Linked DNA regions of Homo sapiens: region 2 is linked to region 1. The links come from fine-mapping of genetic effects on gene expression. A gene starts in region 1. The other region holds a variant in brackets. All regions are shown on one strand. Distances are from middle to middle. Region 1 holds the start of PLEKHH1 (pleckstrin homology, MyTH4 and FERM domain containing H1). Region 2 overlaps PLEKHH1 (pleckstrin homology, MyTH4 and FERM domain containing H1).

What was found.
Region 2: its variant is fine-mapped to the expression of PLEKHH1 in thyroid (GTEx, PIP 0.98).

What each region holds. Positions count from the first base shown.
Region 1 is chr14:67,527,468-67,540,087 of GRCh38, forward strand. It overlaps PLEKHH1 (pleckstrin homology, MyTH4 and FERM domain containing H1), which reads left to right and starts at 5,823. Exons shown (of 29, transcript NM_020715.3): 1 at 5,823-5,931. It also overlaps a transcript of GPHN not described here and a transcript of TMEM229B not described here. RefSeq lists a silencer at 5,447-5,916.
Region 2 is chr14:67,560,566-67,573,185 of GRCh38, forward strand. It overlaps PLEKHH1 (pleckstrin homology, MyTH4 and FERM domain containing H1), which reads left to right. Exons shown (of 29, transcript NM_020715.3): 6 at 1,389-1,470; 7 at 1,572-2,329; 8 at 8,573-8,651; 9 at 9,356-9,447; 10 at 11,187-11,337; 11 at 11,570-11,712. It also overlaps a transcript of GPHN not described here. Among named protein-coding and RNA genes, the nearest start is that of PIGH, 33 kb to the right of the region's middle. RefSeq lists an enhancer at 10,902-11,081. The variant T/C (reference allele first, on the strand shown) is at 9,163.

The sequences.
Region 1 (12,620 bases):
TTAGTGGGTCAGGAACAAAGTCAGCCCTCAATAAATATGGCTTTAAATGTTTCGATTTTTAATTAGGAGATTAGAAAGAAAGATTTCATTTGTTTGCAGTGCCCTGCAATGGCTGGCTGTGTCCCCGGTGTGTTTTGGTGAAGTTGCTTCTATTCCCATTCAGCAATTCTCAGATAAACCAACAATGTGTTTTGTACCGCAGCAGCCCCTCATTCCCCAGCATGACCCTGGTGAAGTGTCCATTAATTCCTTATCTCCAGGCTGAGGATGGCAGCCACGAAGGTCCTGCTTCTATTTTACAGTTAGGTGAGGCACAAAGAGTTGCTGAGATGTCCTCAGATTGCGGAGCAAAGTAGTGGCTGAGCAAGAACTCACTCACAGCTCTGCATGTAGGACCCCACCCCAGACCTCTGGCCTCTTCCTGTCAGCGAAAGTAGTGGCTTTGAGGAGGGGAGGTCAAGGAGCATGAAGAGGCCCTCCAAAGTCCAGTTGCCCTGTACTGAGCCACCTACTCCTCCACGCTCTCCCTCTCCTACAGTGGCCCACTGTGGACACTCGGCAAGCACATGATGAATGTATGAACACAGGACCTCTCGTAGTTCAGCTCTGAGATGGGCTGGTGGGGACTCAGATAGATTGGAGTGTGAGGGTGAGGTAGGGCTGGGAGACTTTCCTTTCTCTTGGCTTGGGTCTGTCTTCTGCTGAGGAGATAATAATAACAACCAGCATCTACTGAGTACTTACTGAGTGCCAAGAACTGAGCTAGGTGCCAAAGCTGGAATTTGAACTCTGGAAGTTGAACCCCACTGTCAGCATGAAAACCCATTGTCTACAGCGGCCACACATGTGTCCCAGAAAAGTAAAGGGTCACTGGCAGCTCTCTGACAGGCCTGGGTTTCCTTGGCTTCTTGGAGCCCTAGTCTCTCCCCACACAGGCTCCCTGGGCTGTTGGAGAACCTGCCACCTACTTAAAGCTGGTCCCTGCCCAGTTCCTCCCTCCCCCAATTGATGTGAGCAGCCATTGTTCTCATCTTTGATGAAAGCTGTTGGAGAAATAAGACAGCTGCTTTAAAACTAGGATGTTGCAAACTCTAAAATGATCTAGAATTGCAGTCAGATGGCTGGATTTACCTGATCCTCATTCCCTGAGCTCCACCAGCTCCCAACTCAGGTGCTCTTTCTCCCTCCCTCTCCTGTCCCTATCCCATTAAGCCCCCATTCACCTGGCTCTCTCTTGCCCGTATAACCCGCAGCTGCAGCGGACAGAGCATTTTGCATTGATATGTGTTGTAATTACATCAGTTCCGCCCTGGCAGTTGCTCTCTGAGAAAAATCACTCAAGGGCATACCAGTCAATACAGACCCCAGACAGGTGCGTGACAATGCAGACTCCTGGGCCCACTGATCTGAATAGCTAGAGGTGGCCTGGAATCTGTATTTTCAGATCAGCATTTTAAGACATGAGGTTAGATTTGGAATCACTGCCCACCTCCTCATTGGAATCCTTCTCCACCAGGCCCTCCTTCCATGCTGCTCCTCCTGGGTACTTTCCAGCTCCCTAGTCTTTGGGCGCCTTGCTAGTCCTTTACACCTCTACACCTTCAAGTTCCCTCCTCATTTCATAATATTTACTAGATTCCAATAATATGCCAGGCACTGAGGCAGGCCCTTTATCTCCATCTTTATAATAACTCTCTAAGGAAGGAATTCTGATTCCTGATTTACAAACGAGGAACACCTTCCCTCCCCTCCCCATCCGCTGCCTGGCTCTCTCTGGCTCCCATACCCACAGGTATACTGAACAGATTATTTGCAGTGAATGTATGTGGTAACTGCATTACTTCCACCCTGTGTCCCCTGGGTGGAAGAGCCAGGATTCAAGGACAGGCATGTCTAGTTCTAAAGCCTGTGCCCAGAGTTGATAGGTCACACTTGCCACACTTTCCTTCCTAGCACAGTGGCTGGAAAATAGCAAGTATTCAATAGATATTTGTTAGTGAGTAACTGAATGAATAAATGAAAGAAGAGTCCATACTTAAAGTTAGGACACTTCCTCCCATCTTTCCATACCCATCTCACATGCACACATATACACGCTCACACACACACTGAGGATTTAGCCACTGGGCCATTTCCTTTCCTTCCTAACTGGCCCTTCTCTGCATGTCCAATCACTGCCTTCCTAGCCCCACTTAGATGGTGACTCTTGACACTCTGCTCTAACCCATGGTTACCTCACCTCTCATGTCCCATGGTGGCTAATCCTGACAATCACCGAAGAGCCAAATTGCTCCCAAAGATTCAGCAGTAGAAGTAACCTCCTGACTTCTTTGTGACCCAAGGCAGAGAGCAGAAGCCTGGACTAGGACTGGCCCCAAGTTTCCTGGGAGTCTGAAACTCCCTTCTCCTTCTTCTCCCCTCTCTTCCCCTTCCAACAGTAACTGAGAACCAGGTCCTGAAGGCAGGAGGAGGGGATCCCTTGATTTGAGGCTTTTTTGGTGATATAGGAGAGGGTCTCTTTGGAGCTCAGAGAAAGCAGGTAGGGATGGGAAGCAGGGTTTCTAGAAGGCTCGTACAAGGGAAGATGAATTGTCAACCATTTCACCAGCTCTCCTAGAGTTATTCCTGTCTCTCAAGCCATCTGCTTATCCATTGCAATCTTGTAAACAGAGATTTACAAGATCTCTCGTAAACTCCAGCCAATATTTGTTCAAAGAATAAATAACAAAAGCTTCCATTTATAGATCACTTGCTGCATGCCAGACAACATACTATCTCATTTAATCATTTCAACAACCCTAAGAGGCCAGAATTATTATCATCATTATTTTACAAACATGGAATTAATTCAGAAACCTTAAGCAACTGCCCCAAGGTCCCACCACCACTTAAGTGATAAAGCTTAAACTGAGCTCTGGCCAGTTCCAAGTTCCCCTTTCCCTCCCATAGTGCTGTCCAAGGAACAAGGCCCAGACTAAGATGCTGTAATATTGACTCTGTAGGAATTTATTTTTTAAACATTCCAGCCTAAACCATGTAGTGTGTGTATATAAAGTGACTCTCCTGTAACTCCTAGAGTGGTTAGTTAGCATCTGAAGTGCCCTAATCAGGAATCCGCACTCCAGAAAATGGTTACATAAGCACTTCAAACAACATCAAAATATACACCCAAGGGCTTAATGTGCTTGAGGGATGCTAGAAATAATCTTTTATTGGTGAAATAAGCAGTTTTCAAAACATGGAGTTGGCCAGGAAGATTATTTGCCCTTGCATGAATGGAGTGTGAGAGCCAGAGCAGGCCAACTGCCCCATTTTCTTGAAGCAGGCTGTGTGACTGTTTTGTGCCAGCTTGCCAATACATGTATATTTGGCAGAATTTGGCCTTAACTATTTTTAATATCCCACCTGCAGGAGATTACAGAAAAGAAGACGAATGGCCTCCTCTCACCTCTCACGTCCCATGGCAGCTAATACAATCATTGAAGGACTAAATTGGCTCAGACCAGTTGACAAGTCCCCATCCCGGCCTCATCTTCTTTCACAAGAATGCCCTAGCATATCCTTCAACTCAGGCACATGATGGCTTTTCTTCCCATCTCTCTGTTCCATCCTCCATTCTCCTTTGTCAGGTCACTTGTAATAATAAGCTAATATCCAAAGAAAGGGGCTCTAGGGGTGATGGTGGGTATTATAGTCCCAGCTACCTGGGAGGCTGAGGCAGAAGGACTGCTTGAGCCTAGGAGTTCTGGGCTGCAATGAGCTATGATTGCCACTGCATTCTAGCTTAGGCAACAGAGCAAGATCTTATCTCTTAAAAGAAAACAACAACAACAACAAAAGTTGTAACTTGCCCAAGTCACATAGCTAAAAAGTGGAAGAGACATAACTGAAACTCAAGCCTCCTAAATTCCTAATGTAGGGTTCAGTCCACCTCTACCACCCTCCCACAGACTGCCAAGGGGTCCTGCTCAGAGTTGGGCAATGGTGAGATGCACTCTATGGCCCCAAACTCATTGAAAGTAACAACTGAGCTGAAAAAAATGTGGAGTCTCTTCTGCCCTCTACAGAAGTAACCAGCTATAGGGGAGAGCATGCTCCTCCCATTCCACTCTCCATGGTGCGTCTCTTTTCACTATATAACAAAGTTATATTAAATGAGTTCTGGGCCGAGGTGCGGTGGCTCATCCCTGTAATCCCAGCACTTTGGGAGGCCGAGGCAGGAGGATTTCTTGAGTCCAGGAGTTTGAGACCCCACCTCTACTAAAAAAAAAAAAAAATTTTTTTTTTTTTTTTTGCTGGGTATAGTAGCATGTGCCTATAGTCCCAGCTGTTCATGAGGCTGAGATGGGAGGATTGCTTGAGCCCAGGAGTTCAAGTTACAGTGAGCTATGATTGTGCCACTGCAATCCAGCCTGGAGAACAGAACAAGAAGAACCTATGTCCAAAAAAAAAAAAAAAAAAAAAGTGAATGAATGAATTAATGTCTTCTTAGCAAAATCCAGAGAACGTGTTTTTGGGCTTCCTTATGCAACTTCTGGAATGTTGAAGTGGATAGCCTGAGCATTGTCCCACAAAATGGGGCTAATCTATCCCAATCCCCACGAGCTATAAAGCTGTTTGCAAGTTCAGCCATTGAAGTCCCATTGGCCCAGTTAAATTCTCACGTTTGGCCTCCTGCACTACCAGCTTTCCTTAGTGTCTGGGCTCTCAAAACTTCTACGTGAGAATGGCCTGGGGTACTTTAGTTAGAGATTCAGATTCAAACCCAGGGTGGGGGTGTTCTTCATGGTGCCTGGGATGAGTCTTCCAAGGACCATTTGGAGAAACAGGCGCTGATGGTATTTTGCTTCTGTTCAGTCCTTCACTGACAGAGAGCCTGCAGGGTTGAGGAAGAAGGCTCTGTTTTGAAGTGTGGATCCCTCCCTGCAATGGTCTCTATTTGCATCTTCTTTACTCCAGGCTCACCTAGCCAAATGTTGAGTTTTCCAACCCCTCTGGGTATGAGATTGCTTTGGGCGATCTGAGATCTGCAAATGTCTGAGAACGAGGAGCACATGGGCACGCTGATGACTGCCCTGCAAACTGCCTGGCAGCCAGGGTCCTCCTGGGCCCTCCTTTAAAATAACATATACATAAGCCGGCCTGGAGGCCCAGGCGGGAAGATCACTTGAGCTCCGGAGTTCGAGTCCAGCCTGGGCAACATAGCGAGACCAGAAAATAAGCAAGTAAGTTACTCTCTGGGCTGTCGTAACTTATTTTTTCTTTTTCTCCTGCAAATTGCAACTCAGAACATTTGGTCTGCCAGACTGAAATATGGACTTCTGTTCCAAATATCCAGACGTTACAGTTCCCACAGGTGGCCAGGAGAATGCTGGAACCTTTGGCGGAGACGGTCTGGTCTTGTCCCGCAGCCCGCGAGGGTCCCCCGCTATTTGGGGTCAAGCAGATCCCCGGGGCGCTCTGGCCACCCCTTGCGGCAGCTGGTGCGGCCTCCTCGGAGAGCTCCGGGCCGGCGCCCGGGACACCCCGCCGCCCTCCCTGCCGCCCCAGGGACGAGCCCAGCGGTGCGGAGAAGTGGGAGGCTGGAGCCTGCTGAGGTCATTTCCTGTGCCTCTCCGCGAGCTGCCTGGAGAGCTGAGCCCAGCGCTCTGCCTTTAAGGAGCGGGCGGGGAGCCGAGGGGAGGAGGGCGCCCGGCGGAGCGTTGAATGGGGCGCAGCAAGGCTCGGCCGGGCTTTGTGCAGCGAGCCCGCGGGCACCCCTCCCGCTCCAGCCTCGCCCCGCCCCGCAGCCCACGACCCCTGCTGCCGGGGAGGGGAGAACCGGCGGCAGCCCGGGACTCCGGCGAGAGCGACGCAAGGTCGGCTGCGGCGGCGGCCCGAGGGCGCCCGTGTGCCCAGTGCGCGGCGGGGACGGCCGCGAGCTCGCTGGAGGTGAGCGACCCGCGCTCCCGCCGCTGTGGTGGGCTGGGGCTGCGCCGCGGCGGAGGGCGTCAGGCTGCGCGCGGGGGACGGCCCCTCGGGCCCAGAGGACGATCCGGAGCAGGTGCCTCCCTACCTGGAAGCGAGCTCCCAGCGGCGGGGAGCGCTGGAGCGCGGGTCTGGCTTGGGAAGCCGGGCGCCCCAGGGGACTCGCGCCGCGAGGCCAGGAGGAGCCTCCCCCGGGAGTACCTGGACTTGGGGATCGGTCAGATCCAGCCGCTCCTGGGAAGGGCCCTCGGAGCGGACGTGCAGGCTGCCACCTTGCTATCGGTGCTCGCTCCCTTTCACCCCTTCCCGCACCCCTCCCCATCTCACCTCAGGTTATTTCTTCTGTGATTTCTGAGTGTTGTCTTTGGGACCCTATGGCTCAGGCTCGACTCCTAGGAGCAGGTCATTCAAGCAGAAAAGAAAACAGGTTGGGCGCCGAATGACACAGAGCATTGTGTCCTAGGAGTCTTAGCGAGGACTCGGTCACCAGGAACCAGGGGCCTTAGTGGGGGTGGCAGAGGCGGTGAAGAGCCTCATCTGGAAGGAAACTCCTCTCCTTGTGGGATTTCTGCTTGCCAGGATATCTCCTCCATAGCTTTTACTATGAATCCACCTCATAAAACTCTTCCAAGACAGAGCCTTGGTTCAGGTAAAACACTTGAAAGACCATTTAAAAAATTCAGTGGGAGAATTATCAGTTCCTTCATCAAACTGTTTGGACTGTCTTCTATGTGACAGACACTGTGTATAGGGCTAGTACCATCACTGAACGCTTTATAGAACATCGGTATTAGTGTTTCTGCATATTATTGGCCCCATTTTTCCAAAGGAGGAAGCTGGGACTCTGAAAAGTTGTGATTTAGGCCAGTTGCAGTGGCTTATGCCTGTAATCCCAGCACTTTGGGAAGCCAAGGCAGGAGGAGAGCTTGATGCCAGGAGTTCAAGACCAGCCTGGGCAACATAGGGAGACCCTGTGTCTACAAATAAATAAAAATTTAAAAATTAGCTGGGTGTGGTGGTGTGGGCCTGTAGTCCCAGCTAACTTGGGAGGCTGATGATCCTGTCTGTTAAAAAAAAAATTGTTGTGATATGCCCATGGTCACATAGCTAAAAAGTGGAAGAGCCATAACTGAAACCCAAGCCTCCTAAATTCCTAACGTATGGTTCAGTCCACTTCTACCACCTTCCCATAGACTGCTGAGGGGGCCTGCTCAGAGTTGGGCAATTGTGGGGTGCAGCCTGTGGCCCCAAACTCATTGAAACTAACAACTAAGCTGAAAAAATGTGGAGCCTCTTCTGCCCTCTTCAGAAGTCACCAGCTGTAGGGGAGAGCATGTTCCTCCCATTCCTGATAGAAAAAAAAAAATCCAAAGAAATGTCTGGCAATTTAAAGTGTACATCATTTACCCCTAAATTCCATTTTCTGGGACTTTATCCTTCAGATATACTCTGATGTATATGAAATGGTGTACATCATTGAATATTCATTGCAGCATTGTTTAGCAAAAGGTTGGAAACAATCTAGATGTCCATCAATAAGGAACCCTTCAATAAGATCATGTAAAAGCCACACGATAGGATACATTAAAGCTGTTATAAAGCGTGCAGAGAAAATGTGGCAGATATATACTTTGATGTAGGAATATCTCTAAGTTATATTGTTGAGTACAGTGTGTATGGTGGGCCACGATTTTTGGGTGGGTGTGTGAATGCCACATACATATGAATGCCTGTAGATGCTCTGAATATCTCTGAGAGAACACACAGAAACCTGTAACAGTGGTTGCCGCTGGGGAGAACTATGGCTGAAGTACAGGCATGGGAAGAAGCCTTACTTTGCACTATATACCCTTTTGTTCAATGTTCTAAAATAACTTTAAAAATCATATGACCTCCTCTCCAGATCTCCAGAGTTAGATCTGGTAGTGAGCACATCTTTTTTTTTTTTTTTTTTTTTTTTTTTTGAGCCAGAGTCTCGCTCTGTTGCCCAGGCTGGAGTGCAGTGGTGCAATCTCAGCTCACTACAACCTCCGCCTCCAGGGTTCAAGCAGTTCACCTGCCTTAGCCTCCCAAGTGGCTGGGATTAACAGGCATGCGCCACCACACCTGGCTAATTTTTGTATTTTTAGTAGAGACAGGGTTTCACCATGTTGGCCAGTCTGGTTGAACTCCTGACCTCAGGTAAGCCGCCTGCCTCCACCTCCCAAAGTGCTGGGATTACAGGCTTGAGCCACCGTGCCCAGCCTCGTGAGCACATCTTTGGGCCACATCTCCTTTTATGTTCTAGATGCTATTGGTTTGCCTTTGTTTGCTGATTACAACAATAACAGTCATTTATTGAGTACTTAGTGTGCACCAGGCTTTTGTAATATCTCCTTTAATTCTCAAAAAGCCCTGCATGATGTGATATATGAAATGGCCATTTTGAAGGTTGGAAAATGGTTAAATGACGGTTTCATATGGTTCAACCAAATATTATTGTCCTGATTTTCAAATATTACTGCCCTCAATTTCAGAATGGAACTGAGTCTCAAAGAAGTTAAGCAAATGGCTTAAGGCCACAGGATTATTTAGTGCCTGAGCTCGTATTCAAACCCAGGCCTGTCAGTGCCAGAGCATGGGATCTTAGGTACTAAGCTGTTTCTCTTTGCTGTTTTTGTTCTCAAGGAATGTTGTACCTGGTTGTCCTGACCACTTCTTTTGGTATTGAGGTTCCTGCGGCCTAGGACATGCTCACCTTCTCTGTCTCCCCGGACATTGTGTGGAATGTCATGTAGGCACCCAGCAGTGGCCAAATGGATGTTGTTAGCTTGATCAGATGACAGTGCTGAGATCAGAGGAAGTTGTCCCTGTGTACACTCACACCCTTCTCCCAGCCTCATCCCCAGAAACGGGACACAAAGCTGTTTCTCTCCCACAATTGACAAGTAGTCAGCCACGTCTGGCAGAGCACTTTTAGAAGATGGTGGTAGCCCCTCACTAGCAAGTGGAAGTCATACAGATACTCACACTCAGGGAATGAACCATACTGAGGCAATATGAGAGAGCCCAGTGGAAACTGTGCATATAACAGAAGCCCCGTTGCCTTCCAATGCCTCCTGCATCCTCCACAAGATAGAGGCAATGAGCTATTTTGAGGCCTGTGGTGACCTCTGACCTCTTTCTTTTAGGGTCCTGTATTGATTAGCTACCTTTGTAGGGAGCTACCAGGATATTCAGGCTGTAGACTTGAGCCTCAAAAGCCACAATATCTTTATTCATCTTTATATCCCCAATCTTGCACACAGGACTCACTTAAAAGTTGTTTGTATTAAACTTAATCTTGGGGTCGGGAGTGGTGGCTCACGCCTGTAATCCCAGCACTTTGGGAGGCCAAGGCAGGTGGATCACCTGAGGTCAGGAGTTTGACCAGACTGGCCAACATGGTGAAACCCTGTCTCTACTAGAAATACAAAAATTAGCCAGTGTGGTGGCATCCGCCTGTAATCCCCGCTACTCAGGAGGCTGAGGCAGGAAAATTGTTTGAACCTGAGAGGCGGAGGTTGCAGTGAGCCGAGATTGCACCATTGTACTCCAGCCTGGGTGACAGAGCGAGACTCCATCTCAATAATAATAATAATAAAATAAAAACTTAATCTTAGGCTGGGTGTAGTGGCTCAACACACTTTAGAAGAATGAGGCAGGTAGATCACTTGAGCCCAGGAGTTCGAGACCAGCCTGGGCACCATGGTGAAACCCTGTCTTTACAAAAAATACAAAAATTAGCCAGTGTGGTGGCATCCACCTGTAATCCCAGCTACTCAGGAGGCTGAGGCAGGAGAATTATTTGAACCCGGGAGGCGGAGGTTGCAGAGAGCCGAGATTGCACCATTGTACTCCAGCCTGGGTGACAGAGCGAGACTCCATCTCAAAAATAATAATAATAATAATAATAATAATAATAATAAAAACTTAATCTTAGGCTGGGCGCAGTGGCTCAACACACTTTAGAATAATGAGGCAGGTGGGTCACTTGAGCCCAGGAGTTCGAGACCAGCCTGGGCACCATGGTGAAACCTTGTCTTTACAAAAAATACAAAAATTAGCCAAGCACAGTGGTGCACGCCTGTAGTCCCAGCTGCTTGGGAGGCTGAGGTGGGAGGGTCACCTGAGCTTGGGAAAGTTGTGGCTTCAGTGAACCATGATTGTGCCACTCACTCCAGCCTGGGCAACAGAGTGAGACCCTGTCTCAAAAGAAAAAGAAAAAAAAGTAATCTTAGCATTTTGTCAGTTTCTGCTCAAAATCCTCAAACTTGCCAGAGAGATCCCAGGTCAAATTTGTGTTTTCTCTGATACAGACTCTGAGTCTGGAGTCACCTAATGACTTCCTGTGCCACCTTCCCACCCATCCTACTCCCAGCCCCTGCCTCTGGGGCATATCCCCACTGACTGCTGTGGCATTTCAGTCCCGGGTGTTGGAGGATTCAGGGGATGCCAAAGCAGGTATCAAGACTATGGCAGTTTTTTGATTCACCTGCCAAGCAGTTTAGCAGGCTGGGTGCCAGCAGAATCAAGAAAACTATGAGTTTCATAAGACTGGCCAACAGCTGATCGTAATTTTAGCGGGGTATTGGGGACAGAGGGACTTATTGTACTATTCTCCCTATTTCTAATGTGTGATAGAGCATTCCAGAATAAAAATAGAAAAAAAAATTGAGCTGAGTTTTGTTTCCAGCTCACTTCCCCTCTCTCATTTCCCCATTTATTTTTTGCCATTAATGTATTTGTGTTAGACTAGCCTGTTAGTATGAGATATCTGCTACCACTACTGAAGCATCATCATGGGAAGAGGACAATTGTAGATATTGGGAGATCAGGATTCTTGGCCCAGTTCTGCTACTCCTTAGCTCTATGCAAGGCTCTAAGCAAGTCACAGATGTGATGAGTTTTCTCATCTGTTCATTGTGACTAATTGTGTTCGTCCTCCATCTCAGGGATAAAGAGAGAAATAACACATGCGTCGCAATGCTTTGACAAGTTACAAACTCTACTGCAAATGTAAGGTATTCATTTCTGCTCATCCTTGTGCATTTTTATGGGAGGTATAAGTGCAAGGTGACTTAGCAGGTGAGGCTCAGCTTACTGGTATCTTCCTTTAACCTCCCTTATTTTATAGCTGTTGCTCTGACCACCTGCTTCTGTCAGAAGAGCCTCTGGGCCTTGGGTTTGGCAGCAGGCACCCTGCTCCTGATCTATTTCAAAACCTCTCTGCTCTCCTCACATGCTGAGGCAAGCCAAGCACGAGTCCCAACCTCCTCAGCAACTTGCCAGGGAGAGGGTGGTTAATCCTCTCCATCCCCAAGGCAGGGAGAGGATTAAACAGACCACTTGATCAGTTCAGAACCATGATGTTACGGAGATGCTTGATTGGGGAAAGCATTCCCTAAACTAGGTATAATCTCAGATATCAGGGCTAGGCAGACACCAGTGACATATTTCCAAAGTACTTGGAGATTTTGATAATTTGGGTTTTCACTCTCCCAATAGAATCTGAGCAGCAGCTTTGACAATCAGTAAGAGGGAATCAATATTAATCAAACTCTTTCAACTATACAAAGGGATTACATTTCCCTTGCCCCTTGCTTTTATGCTTTTACTGTTATTTCTTAGCCCTGAACTGAGTTGCGAGACTCCCAGGTCCTAGTCTCAGATCTGCCACTTTTCCTATTTATACAAGGAAAAGCAAAATCCCAGTAAAGGACAAGGAAAAATCAAACATGAAGCCTCCCGGCCTTCTCTGAGAGCCTTACAAGGTTCTGTTTTGTCTTTTCAGCTGTGATCTTAGCTCAGAGAAGGTCATGTTTTGTTTTTGTCTTTTGTCTTCCTGCCCGTTCCAGTTGGTCCTAGTCTTTTGAGATGGGGATTGCTGGGAGGTCACAATGCAGGGATTGTTTAGATGACAGGGCTGGGAGAGCAGCGCTGAAGTCATGTGTTCTGAGGAACCAAGAAGCGAGCTTACTCGGTCCATCAGTGGTTTAATTGTTGGGCCTTTCTCTGCAGGTCTTATTTTTTAGATGAAAAGTCAGGATACATGGTAAAGGTCAGTGCTTGGGGAGATTATGGTGTCAGAATATTTGAGCCCAAGATGTCTTGGGAAATCTGGGATATAGGTTCATCCTTGTGCTAAGGCTTCTGAAAGATCCTAGAAACGATTTCTGCCATTTTCAAGTCTACCACACTCTTTGTGAAATTGAAATTCTTTTTATTTTTTTTGGATGGGTAAAGAGCACAGAGTGGCAATGAACAAGGAATTTGGGACCAGAATCCCAGCTCCACCATTAACTAGCTGTACAATTATCTGTAAATTACTTAGCTTCTCTGTTCCTCAGTGTCCTCATGTGTGTGTGGACAACAGTGCTTACCTATTGTTTCACAGGTTGTTGTAAGGTTTAAAGAGGCAACACATGCCTGGCATACAATAAAGACTCAATAAGCAATAGCTACTTGTAGTGTATGATGGGAGAAAAATACGAATAAAAGTCACATGCGAGGGGAGAAGCACGATTGGTGATTAGCCCATCAAAGAGAGGCTAACTTTGCACTGTGGTAGTATCTGGCAACAGTACAGGAGGTGGCTGGGTTTTCTGAGGCCATGTGGCTCCTGAGGAAGGAAA
Region 2 (12,620 bases), 33 kb after region 1:
TTCCCTCTCTATCTATCCATTTTTGTAGTTTATCACGTGCTGTACCTTTATTTAGGAAACTCAGGACTTGAAGCTACAGTGCTATCACCAACAGACAGAAAACAACCTCCTTCTAAATAAAAGGAGTGGGAATTGCAGTTTGGAAAAGGATGAACATATATCTTTTTTTTTTTTTTTTTTTTGAGACGGAGTCTCGCTCTTGTTTCCCAGGCTGGAGTGCAATGGCACAATATCGGCTCTCTGCAACCTCTGCCTCCTGGGTTCAAGCAATTCTCCTGCCTCAGCCTCCTGAGTAGCTGGGATTACAGGCACACGCCACCACGCCTGGCTAATTTTTGTACTTTTGGTAGAGACGGGGTTTCGTTATGTTGGCCAGGCTAGTCTTGAACTCCTGACCTCAGGTGATCTGCCCGCCTCAGCCTCCCAAAGTGCTAGGATTACGGGTGTGAGCCACCACACCCGGCTGACAAACATACATCTTTTCCTCTGTCCTCACACAAGTGGTTCACACCTGCAGGAGGGTATCAGCTCATTTGGCCTCCTATCCCCTTCTTTGGATGTACATCTCAGGTCACCTGCTAGACTGCAAGTTCTTGGAGACAGAACTGATGCCTGGCTTACCTGCGTATTCTCACAGTCCCAACCCTTGCTAAAAGATACTCAATAAAAGTGTGTTGGACTTAATTTAAAGGAAAATGCAGGCTGGGGGCAGTGGCTCACACCTGTAGTCCCAGCAGCACTTTGGGAGACCTAGGCGGGTGGATTGCTCGACACTAGGAGTTTGAGACCAACCTGGCCAACATGGCAAATCTCTGTCTCTACAAAAAATACAAAAATTAGCCGGGCATAGTGGCGTGCACCTGTAGTCCCAGCTACTCGGGAGGCTGAGGTGGGAGGCTAAGGTGGGAGGATGGTTTGAGCCCTGGTGGCAGAGGTTGCAGTGAGCCAAGATTGCACCACTGCACTCCAGCCTGGGTGATAGAGCCAGACCTTGTCTCAGAAAAGAAAAGAATATGCAGCAGCCACGCTCAGTGGCACATGCCTGTAATCCCAGCACTCTGGGAGGCTGAGGTGGGCAGATCGTTTGAGTCCAGGAATTTGGGACCAGCCTGGGCAACATAGCGAGAGCTTGTCTCTACAAAAAAATAAACGAAATTAACTGGGCCTGGTGGTGTGTGTCTATGGTCCCAGCTACTCAGGAGGCTGAGGTGGGAGGATCAGTTGGGCCTGGGAGGTCAAGGCTGCAGTGAGCCAAAATTGCTCCACTGCAATTCAGTCTGGCCAACAGAGCAAGACCCTGTCTCAAAAAAAAAAAAAAAAAGAATTGAAAAAATACATCTAAACCTGTAGGCTGGGTGTCCTAAATCTTCATTTTTCTTTTTGCTCAGCTTGAGATGGAGAATCAGCATCTGAAAAGCCATAATCAGCGCCTGGTGGAGCAGGTGGGATCCCTTCAAGATGCGCTAGAAGGTAGGCAGGCCAGGGTGTGCAGGTGTGCAGTACGTGTGTTTGGTGGGTATGGGGCTGAGCTACGGGAGCTCTCAATGTGACTGTTTTTACCCGAATCACAGCTATTCAGATAGCTCCTTCACGGAAGCTGCTGGTGCCCCCCTACGGAGCTGCAGAGCAGGATTCTGTCCCTTCAGAGCCGGGAATCCAGCCTATGGGCCAGGACAGTGGCTCCCAGGCCCAGGGTCTGAAGGCAGCTGTGCTTGCACCTTCCCCAGGTGCCCTGCAGAGCAAGGACTCTGTTTCTGAAGCAGCAAGCCCCTTGGAGGATTCTAGTTCCAGCACGGTCCATTCTGGGGAAACAGTAGAGGCCAAGCCCCTTCAACCTCATCTGGGAAGAGAGAGCCCTCCCCACCAGCCATGCATGAAGCTTCTTACCTTCAGATGTAGTTCAGCTTCCTGGGGTGAGGGTCTGGTTACTGCTCAGAGAGGGATGCTCCCTGGGACAAAGACCTCTGCCAGGGAAGGTGGTCCTGGCAGCAGTCTGACCCTACCAAAGGTGCGGGCTCCTGGCACCCCGCGGGACAGCATCCAGTTGGCCAAAAGGCACCACAGCCAGCCCCAGGTGGGCCATGGGCACTTTGGCCGTGTGGTGAACATTGAGACTGAGGCCTTCTCAGCCCTCCACCCCTCTGGCCTTCCTGAGCTGGAGTCCCGAGCTAGGTCCCGGGAGGAACCAGAGAAGATGGAGATGGAGGAGCCACCCCCAGCAGGGAAGAATGAGGAAAGAGAGAGCCCAAAGGCCCTTGGAGCTGAGCTGGAGGAAGTGGAGCTGGGTAACAAGCCACCTACACCCCCGCTGCACCAGTTTTCATCCTGGGTAAGAGGCAACCTCCGGGCTGGGCAGAGGAGCAGAGCTAATGGCAAGAACACTGCTGGCTGAGCACAGCCATGCACTGAGCAGGAGAGGAGGCTGCTGGCATCCTCATGGTGGCCCTGGCAGGCAGGTACCATGGAGCCTGTGCAGACCACACAACCAGTGAGGGTCAGCGCCAGAATTCAGAATGATGTGAATGGCGGTTGGCTGTCATTTCCTGAGTGCTCACCGTGCACCATACATTGAGCTGGGTGCCCTGCATACCTTTTCTCATTTAATCTTTGTGAGTCTTTCAGGTGGTCTGGTATGATGGTCAAGAGCATAGGCCCCAGAAGCAAACCACTAGGGTTGAACTGTTAACTACGTGACCTTGGACATGTTACTGAACCTCTGTGCCTCAGCTTCCCTGTCTATAAAATGGGGATAATAGTACCTACTTTATAGGGTTGTTGTGAAAGTACTTACAGTAGTGGTTCACAGTAGGTGGTAGGTAAGTGTTGGCTATTTTTCTTTCTTTGTTTTTCTTTTTCTTTTCTTTTTTTTGGGGGGTGGGGGTGAGGGGGCAGAGTTTCACTCTTACTGCCCAGGCTGGAGTGCAATAGCATGATCTTGGCTCACTGTAACCTCTGCCTCCTGGGTTCAATCAATTCTCCCGCCTCAGCCTCCCAAGTAGCTGGGATTACAGGCATGCACCACCACGCCCAGCTAATTTTGTATTTTTAGTAGAGGCAGGGTTTCACCATGTTGGTCAGGCTGGCCTCAAACTCCTGACCTCAGGTGATCCACCCTCTTGGGCCTCCCAAAGTGCTGGGATTGTAAGTATGAGCCACTGAGCCTGGCTTTTTTTTTTTTTTTTTTTCGAGACAGAGTCTTGCTCTGTCACCCAGGCTGAAGTGCAGTAGCACGGTCTCGGCTCACTGCAACCTCCGCCTCCCAGGTTCAAGTGGTACTCCCACCTCAGCCTCCCAAGTAGCTGGAATTACAGGTGTGTGCCACCATGCCCGGCTAACTGTTTTTTTTTTTTTTCTGAGACAGAGTCTTGCTCTGTTGCCCAGGCTGGAGTGCAGTGGCACAATCTCAGCTCACTGGAAGCTCTGCCTCCCAGTTTCACGCCATTTTCCTGCCTCAGCCTCCCAAGTAGCTGGGACCACAGGCACCTGCCACCACGCCCGGCCAATTTTTTGTATTTTTAGTAGAGACGGGGTTTCACCATGTTAGCCAGGATGGTCTCGATCTCCTGACCTCGTGATCCGCCCGCCTCAGCCTCCCAAAGTGTAATTTTTATATTTTTAGTAGAGTCGGGGTTTCACCATGTTGGCCAGGCTAGTCTCAAAGTCCTGACCTCAAGTGATTCACCTGCCTAGGCCTCTCAATGTGCTGGGATTATAGGCAACTGCGCCAGGCCAGCTTCCTTACTTGTAACATTGGATAAAATGTCTTGATATCTGTCTGGTAGAAATACTTCAGAAGCAATGATCTGGTTGGTGGCCAAGGGTGGGGACACAGATGAAGCATGACTGGCCACACATCATTAACCTTTGCCAAGCTGGGCGATGGGCACGTGAGATCATTCTTTTTTTAACTGAGACAGGGTTTTACTCTGTCGCCCAGGCTGGAGTGCAGTGGCGCAATATTGGCTCACTGCAACCTCTGCCTCCTGGGCTCAAGCAATCCTCCTACTTCAGCCTTCTAAGTAGCTGGGACTACAGGCATGCACCACCATGCCTGGCTAATTTTTGTATTTTTAGTAGAGACAGGGTTTCACTATGTTGGCCAGGCTGACATTTTTTTTTTCTTTTCCTTTTTTTTTTTTGAGACAGAGTCTTGCTCAGTCTTGCCCAGGCTGGAGTGCAATGGTGCAATCATGGCTCACTGCAGCCTCAACTTCCCGGGCTCAAGCAATTCTCCCACCTCAGCCTCCCGAGTAGCTGGCACTACAGGCATGCACCACCATGCCCAGCTATTTTTTAATTTTTTGTGGAGATGGGCTAACACTATGCTGTTGCCCTGGCTGGTCTCGAACTCCCAGGCTCAGGTGGTCCTCCCACCTTGACCTCCCAAAGTGCTGGGATTACGGGTGTGAGCCACTGTGTCTGGCCCTGTACCTGACATTTTCCATGATAAAAAGTTAAAATAAAAATGAGACAGGCTATAAAAATGACATTTCACAGGTCACTAGTGAAAATGGCATGTGGGTATTAAGGGCTTCGCACGGAGCCTGTGGGAAGGGCTCCTTTCCTTGCAAGGAGTAAGGTGTGGTTTCTCCCTTTTACAGGTCAGGAAACCACTGTTCCCCACAGACTTAGGTACTTGCCCAAGGTCATGTAGTAGTTAGTGAGGGAGCCAGGCTTTATTTATTTATTTACTTGAGAGACGGTGTCTTGCTCTGTCACTCAGGCTGGAGTGCAGTGGCACAATCACAGTCCACTGCAGCCTTGTACTCCTGGACTCAAGGGATCTTTCCACCCCAGCCTTCTGAGCAGCTGGGACTACAGGTGCACACCACCACACCTGGCTAATTTTTTAAATTTTTTGTAGGGATGGAGTATCCCTATGTTGCCCAGGCTAGTCTCAAACTCCTGGCCTCAAGTGATCCTCCTTTGTCAGCCATAAGAGCCACCTTACCCGGTCTGAGAGCCAGGCTTTAAATGTAGTTCCAGCTGCTTTGAAGCCCAGCTCTCACATTCCAGCTGTACTTCCTCTTAAGGGACATTGCCAGAGCTAAGGTCAGTCTTTGATTCATGGGCAGACATCCCCTCCACAGATGCTGCTGGGGTGTGTAGCAGTACCATGGGGGACAGCTAAGCGTTGGCTCCTGGCAGCAGGAGGAATGAGGTCACTTGGGAGAGGGGGTGACATCAGGGTGGACTCACCCCACACCACTGCTCGGGAGACCTGTATTTCCAGCAGTAACTCCCAGGGCCTCCTTTTGAAATGCTGGTTCAAATCCGGGCTCAGTAGCTTATGCCTGTAATCCCAGCACTTTGGGAGGCTGAGGCAGGCAGATCACTTGAGGTCAGGAGTTCGAGACCAGCCTGGCCAACATGGCGAAACCCCATCTCTACTAAAAATACAAAAATTATTTGGGCATGGTGGTGCACGCCTATAGTCTGGCTGCTCGGGAGCCTGAGGCAGTAGAATCGCTTGAACCCAGGAGGCGAAGGTTGCAGTGAGCTGAGATTGCGCCACTGCACTCCAGCCTGGGCGACAGAGGAGACGATCTCCAAAACAAAACAAAGAAATGCTGGTTCGGGAGGCACACAGCCCTAGACTTTTGGGCTATATCCTTGGCAGTGACTGTTGATCAGCTTCTGGTTGTTTCAAGGACACCTGTAAGACTGGAGACCCAGTTGAGCCAAGAGTGGGGCACATCAGGAAGACTAGGGGATGGAAAAGCACTGGTCCCCCTGGGCTGCTGGCTCTCTTCTTGCTCTGGAGTCCAAATGCAGAGGTTGGGAGCAGGAAGTAGTCAGGCAAGGAATGTGCAGCTGCTACCAGAGAGAAGCGTTGCTCACTTTGCCATTTTGCCAAAATACAGCCATTCACTGTGATAGCTTAAGAGTAGGTCTTGAGCCGGGTACAGTGGCTCACACCTGTAATCCCAGCACTTTGGGAGGCAGAAGCAGGTAGACTGCTTGAACTCAGAAGTTCAAGACCAACCTGGGCAACACGGCGAAACCCCATGTCTACCAAAAAAGATACAAAAATTAGCTGAGCATGGTGGCACATGCCGGTAGTCCCAGCTACTCAGGAGGCTTAAGTGGAAGTTAAGTTTGAGCCCAGGGAGGTGAAGGTTGCCATGAGTCAAGATCTTGCCACTGTACTCCAGCCTGAGTGACAGAGCCAGACCCTGTCTTGAAAAAAAAAAAAAAAAGAGTGGGTCTTCTCTATCTGAACAGGTTAAGTGTATGTGTGTGAGAGAGAGGGTGGAGGAGGAGAGGAGGAATGGGGAGACGAGGAGTTATTGTCTCCTCTTATTCTGTATAGAAAATATATCAGATGACGTTCTCCCCAGGAACCTCAGCTGAACTCTGGTGATGAAGGTATTAAGGGGATTAAGGTATTAAGGGGCAGCGTCAGGTCTTCCCACAGAACCTCCCTGCCCCCAGCTAGGCCCCAAGGACCCAAGAATCAGCCAAAAGAATGTAAGGAGATCTCATCCTGTTTGCAATCCCCTTTGTAACTTGCTCCTGGGGAAAACAAGACACAATGCTAGCTCCTTCCCAGGCCCCTGAGGCATGATCACTCGTGTTCCGTGTTCCGGGGAGAGCTTAAGAAATCACAGTGGCCAGAAGCCCAGCCTCTCTCTCTCCCAGGCAGGACCAATGGGGCAGTAACCATCTGGGGAGGGCGGTGGGGGAATGAAATGTCAGAGAACATTTCTCAATCTGACGGTGTGAGAAATACTTATGTATCTTAGAGTTTGGAAAGCCCTTTTTTCAGTTAATCCTTAAAACAACCTTGTGAGTTAGGCATTAGATAACATTTTGTCAAACAGTCATAGGTTTCGTTTTACCTAAATCCTTCAAACTTCAGTTTCATTTCCTCTGCAAAGTTAGAGGCTTGTCCTTGGTTAAATTCCATGACCACTCTGGGCAGAAATAATCCTTTTTATGCCGAATTTTACTTGGGCTCGATGTATCTGCCCTACACGAGCACAGAAACTCCCTGCCCTGCTGCAGGGCCCTCCTTGGCATCCTTCCTCACCGCCCCTCTGTCTCCTGCCGCCCCTCCAGTGATCTCAGCGTCTCATGGCAGCACTCATCAGCTCTGCCCTCTCTCCTCCCAGTTGTCCCAGGGCTGCTGCTCCCCTCTGGGATGACACCCTGATAGGCACCCACCTCCCTTCCAATGCCATCTCCTAGCCCATCTGACCCCACCAGGTGACAGCACATCTAGCTACCTCCCTGAGCCAACAGGGCATTCCTCCAAAGGCTGGTCAACCTTCCCTCGTCAGCCTTGGTGACTCACGTCACCTTTGTTTTCCTTTAGGCTCAGTGGAGCAAACAGATCCAGAAGGTGCAGGGAACCCTGTGGGTTGTTTATGAGCAGTCAGGGCCATTAGGAAAAGCTCCTTTGGCCTGTGGCCTACTTCAGACCCAGGGGCCCCCTCAGGACGGGCATTCTCCCAGTGTCTTCTGCATGGGGGTGCTGGAGTCCTGTTGGGCTAAATAGGCTTTGTAGATTGGCCCTGAAGCCTAGCCATGATATGACATTATTCCTGCAGGGGAAAAAACGTGCCCTAAGTTCCCACATATGTTCATCACAGCACTACTCACAATAGCAAAGACATGGAATCAACCCAATGCCCATCAATGGTAGACTGGATAAAGAAAATGTGGTACATATACACCATGGAATACCGTGCAGCCATAAACAGGAATGAGGTCATGTCCTTTGCAGGGACATAAATGGAGCTGGAAGCCATTATCTTCAGCAAACTAACGTAGGAACAAGAAAACCAAACATTGCATGTTCTCACTTACAAGTGGGAGCTGGACAATGAGAACACATGGACACAGGGAGGGGAACATACTTAGTGGGGCCTGTCAGTGGATGGTGGCGGTGGGGGAGTATTAGGGAAAAGAGCTAAAGCATGCTGGGATTAATACCTAGGTGATGGGTTGTTAGGTGCAGTAGACCACCATGACACACGTTTACCTACATAAAAACCTGCACATCTTGCATACGTACCCTGGAACTTAAAAAACAAACAAATTATTTTTTAAAAAAAGAAACAATAGAGAATTTTTTAAAAATGTGCCCTAAGTTCCAAACAACTGGCTTACAAAAGAGCCCTTGTCGTGTGGCCGCAGTGGCTTCCTCATTACCAATATCCCCAACTTCTGGGGGTTAGATCTTGAGACCCAAGGGTCTCTAAAACGGGTAGGATTCAGAGCAACAGTTTACTGACCCATCTTCTCTTGAACCTCCTTTGCCCCAAAGGTGAAGGGTGGAGGCAAGAGAGGGAACTGTTGGGCACTGATTATATTCCAGGTGTTAAATGCTTATGTTAAGTATTTCATTGATTCTCACAGCAGCCTGAAAGGTAAGTATTATTACCTCCATTTAGAGCAGAGGAAAATGAGTCTCAGAAATGAAGTAACTTGCCCAAGATTTGTTAGCCAGTCACTGCCCCCCACAGGTCTGCCCACCCCCAAAGCCATGCTTTTTCCTGCACATGCCTGGAGGGGGTGGGATGGGCATCATGCCGGGCCCTGAGCTTCCTGAGACCTCTTGTTTCAGGAGAGCCGGATCTATGCTGTGGCCACATCGGGCATGCGGCTCTCAGATATGTCTCCCAGAAGTAATACTGCATGCTGCGGTGAGTTCCAAGTGAGGCTTGGAGGCACCAAACACCCAAGGTGGGCAGGGTGGGCAAGCGGGGAGGAGAAGACTCCAAGCAACACCCAGGGCCAGGGTTGGCTGGCCTACCCTGTTCCCCTCCCCAGCAGGTGAAGTTCAGGTGAAATCACAGCAAGTCCCACCTAGGAGGGAAAGGGAAGTCGTACAGGTTCAGCCCATCACAGGAAAGTAGCCAGTCACAGAGCTGGAAGGGATCTGAGAGGGGGCCTCCAGCCCAGCCTCCCACCTGCACAGGCTTCGCTTCTGCAGTGCCAGGGCCGTGGGTGGGAGGAGCCACAAGTGTCCTGATTTACATGAACCCCACTCACTGGCTCCTCTCCAGCCAGCCACCAAATCTCCACAACGAGGGCTGTGGGGTGGTCCCATAGCCGTATGATTTGTAACTCACATCTGCAACAGTGGAACACTGTGCAAGCCTCATGGAGGAAAAAATGGTTAAAGGTAAGGCTTTTGGATTCTTTTGTGAGGGA[T/C]CCTTTACCACATGGAGATCATGGTCCCCAAAGGGAGTCAAGGGGAGAAGATGAACAGGGCCCTGGCCCCCCTCTTGAGATCTGTCACTGGCCTGCTCCTGGAGGGAATGCCATCTGCCCAGTTCTCTGCTTCCCCCACACCCCTTCCTGGGTTATGCCCTTGAGTAATCTCATTCCTCTCTTCCCTGCTCAGCTTCAAGCCCTCCTGCCCTTGTTTCCCCTGGGTCTTTCTCTGGCCTGGTCTACAAGAATGTCACTGTGCCTGTCTACACAGCACTGAAGGGGGTAAGAAACTGCTGCACAAAGAGGGGGTGTCTCATCAGGAAAGGCCCCTGGCCTCATCATCCAATGACTGGGGCGGGGCTCTAGGGCCAGGCTTCTGCACATGGTGACCCTGCCCAGGGAGCTGAGCCCAGCACGTGTCATTTTGTTTTATTGTTTATTAGGTTATTATAAAAATTCCACATTTACAAAAATGTGAATCAGTATGAACGTGGACAAGGTAAGAAGGTTAAGCCTATGCCCGCTTTACAGCTCTCCCCACCTTTTCTCATGTCTGCCTCACTCCTCAGGTCCCAGAGGGCAGTGGGGCTCCTTCTAGAATTACTGAGGTATATTCCAACTTATATTCCCGTAACGTCACTACATTTTAAAAACAAAAATCAGATAGAATTGCAATATTTTCATACACATTTTTGTCTCTGTTACTGGTTTTTGAATAATAGTAATACTTGATAAAATTTTTTATAGAAGAATAAAAAACCAAAAGTGAAATTTCCTCTCACGTCGCTTTTCCCTAATTCCTAAGCCCAGAGGAAGCTATCATGAATGGTTTAGTGTTTATTCAGTAAGGCCTTCCGATGCATTTATAAATATGCAGCACACTCTCACTGTCTCCTGTGTGCACACAAAAGGTGCTCATATACATGTCATTCTATGCCTTGCTTGTTCCCCTAACCACGTGAATAACCACGTGTCAGGTCATCCTTCCCTACCTCCTCCTTTTTATTTTTCCGAGACAGAGTCTGGCTCTGTTGCCAGGCTGGAGTGCAGTGGTGCAACCTTGGCTCACTGCAACTTCCACCTCCTGGGTTCAAGCGATTCTCCTGCCTCAGCCTCCTGAATAGCTGGAACTACAGGCGCGCACCACCATGCCCAGCTAATTTTTGTATTTTTAGTAGAGACGGGGTTTCACCATGTTGGCCAGGATGGTCTTGATCTCTTGACCTTGTGATCCGCCTGCCTCAGCCTCCCAAAGTGCTAGGATTACAGGCATGAGCCACCATGCCTGGCCCCTACCTCCTCCTTCTATAGGTGTCCAGTACCCTTGGTATCGAAGCACCATAACTATTAATACCTAAAGCTTTCCTCCAATAATAATTTAGTCTGTGTCCCTGTTTTTCTCTAAAATGAATGTTGCCATGAACATCACTGTGCACATATATCTTTGGGAACTTATATCTACATGTGTCTGTAGGACAGAGTTCTAGAGGTGGGATTTCTGGGCAAATTATATACATGTTTTAATTTTTGACAGGTACTGCCAAATTACCTTCTAAAAATGCCTTACACACTAGAGTTTTTTCCCCCATCTTCTCCCCATACTCTCACCAACACTGAGATAGTCAGTCACTTTAAATGTTTGCCAATGGAGATGCAATCATTGATTGTTGCGACGTCCCCACACATTTTTAAAGCTCGCATGGCACACTTAGTCTGTGGTGTAGCTTTCTGGCCCCCTAGTGGCAAGGAGCGAGGGTCACAGTGGGCAGGCATTCAGTCGTGATGGGCAGCTGCTTTGGGGACCACAGAAGATGGTGTGTGGGAAGGGAGGCCTGAGAAGCATGGAGGTCATGACACAGGAGTGAGGCCAGGAGGGACCTTACACTGGACAGTTGTCTGTTCAGAGTCCCGGCTGGGGGTTGGCCACACCATGGGCACTTGGACCAGGAGTGCAAGCTGCAGGGTTGGGAGAGGACTGTTTTGCAGCCTGAGCTGCAGTGAGGGAGGGGCCTGTCTTGCAGAGAGCTACACAGATCAGCAACATGCCCTTTATGGACGAGTCCTCTGGGTCTGACGATGACTGCAGCTCTCAGGCGAGTTTCCGAATCTCGGTCCCCTCCTCTGAGTCCAGGAAGACCAGCGGACTAGGCAGCCCCCGGGCCATCAAGAGAGGTACAGAGAAGGGGAGCAGGGGCAGGGTGCAGCAGCAAGGAGCCCCTCACCTCTTCCCATGGGCACTTGAACATGGGCGTCCCCACTTGATCTGAGCTCGTGACCCCCCAGCAGCTCCACCCCCAGCCCCAGAGACCGGGTCCCGGGTGGGTGGTCAAGTCTCAGCAGCTCCTGGGCTGCGTGAGTCGGGGAGGTGTGGGACCCGGGCCTTGACTCCTCCTCCCTCGGCAAGGCGTCTCCATGTCCTCACTGAGCTCCGAGGGTGACTACGCCATCCCCCCGGACGCCTGCTCACTGGACAGTGACTACTCAGAGCCTGAGCACAAACTGCAGCGCACCTCATCCTACTCCACCGACGGGCTGGGCCTGGGCGGGGTGAGCCGGGAAACGGGCGGGGGCAGGGTGGAAGCAGAATGCAGCAGAGGCTGCTGGGGCCCTCAGCACAAGACATAGGCAGTAGCTGCCTGAAGTGAGGGGTCCCTAGAGCTGGGGGATGGGGGCAGGGGGCGTGGGCTGGGGGGGTGTACAGTTATGGAGTCAGACACACAGACCCCACAAGGAAGGAAGGAGGGAGCCCAGAGAGCTCCTGGAATACCAGCAATGGCCAGTTACTGAGAGCCTACTGTGGCCCACCAGGCCCCATGAAGAGTTTTCCATATATGACTTTGTTTTATCACCTGGAATACTAACGCAAGCTAACATTTATTGAACTCTTGGCACCAGGCACTGTGCTCAGTTTCCAGGCATTGTCTCATTTGTCCTCACAATCCTCTTGGGGTCATTAGCCCATCTTATGGATGAGAAGCCTGAGGCTCCAAGCTGTGCCACTACATGCCAGGGCTAGCATCCACTCCCGATGTAATTCCGCATCCCTCGCCCCACACCTCTCTGCTGCCCCATCATCTCCCTGGCTCCATGACCCTCCAGTCCTGCCTGGCTGATGTGTCCAGGTTGCCCAGACCTGCCTTGCCCTCTCCCTGCTCTGTGCTGCCTGGAATGGTCTTCTTCCTCCTCTCAGTCTTTGAGGGAGAGGCTGAACTATCCTAACAAGGCCAGCTCAGGGCCGGCTCTCTCCTGACGCTCTCCCTGGCCAGGCTCTCCCTCTAGCAGCCCCTGCTCTGCTACCTTCTCATAGTGAGGTCTTCCCCAGCTAGCATGGGAGCCCTTCCTTGGCAGGACCACCCATGTTTTATTTAGTCCTCTCTGAACCATAGCAGGGCATGGTACTCTGAAAATACACTGAGTAGGTACTCAATAATTTTGTATTTAATTGATGACCGAGT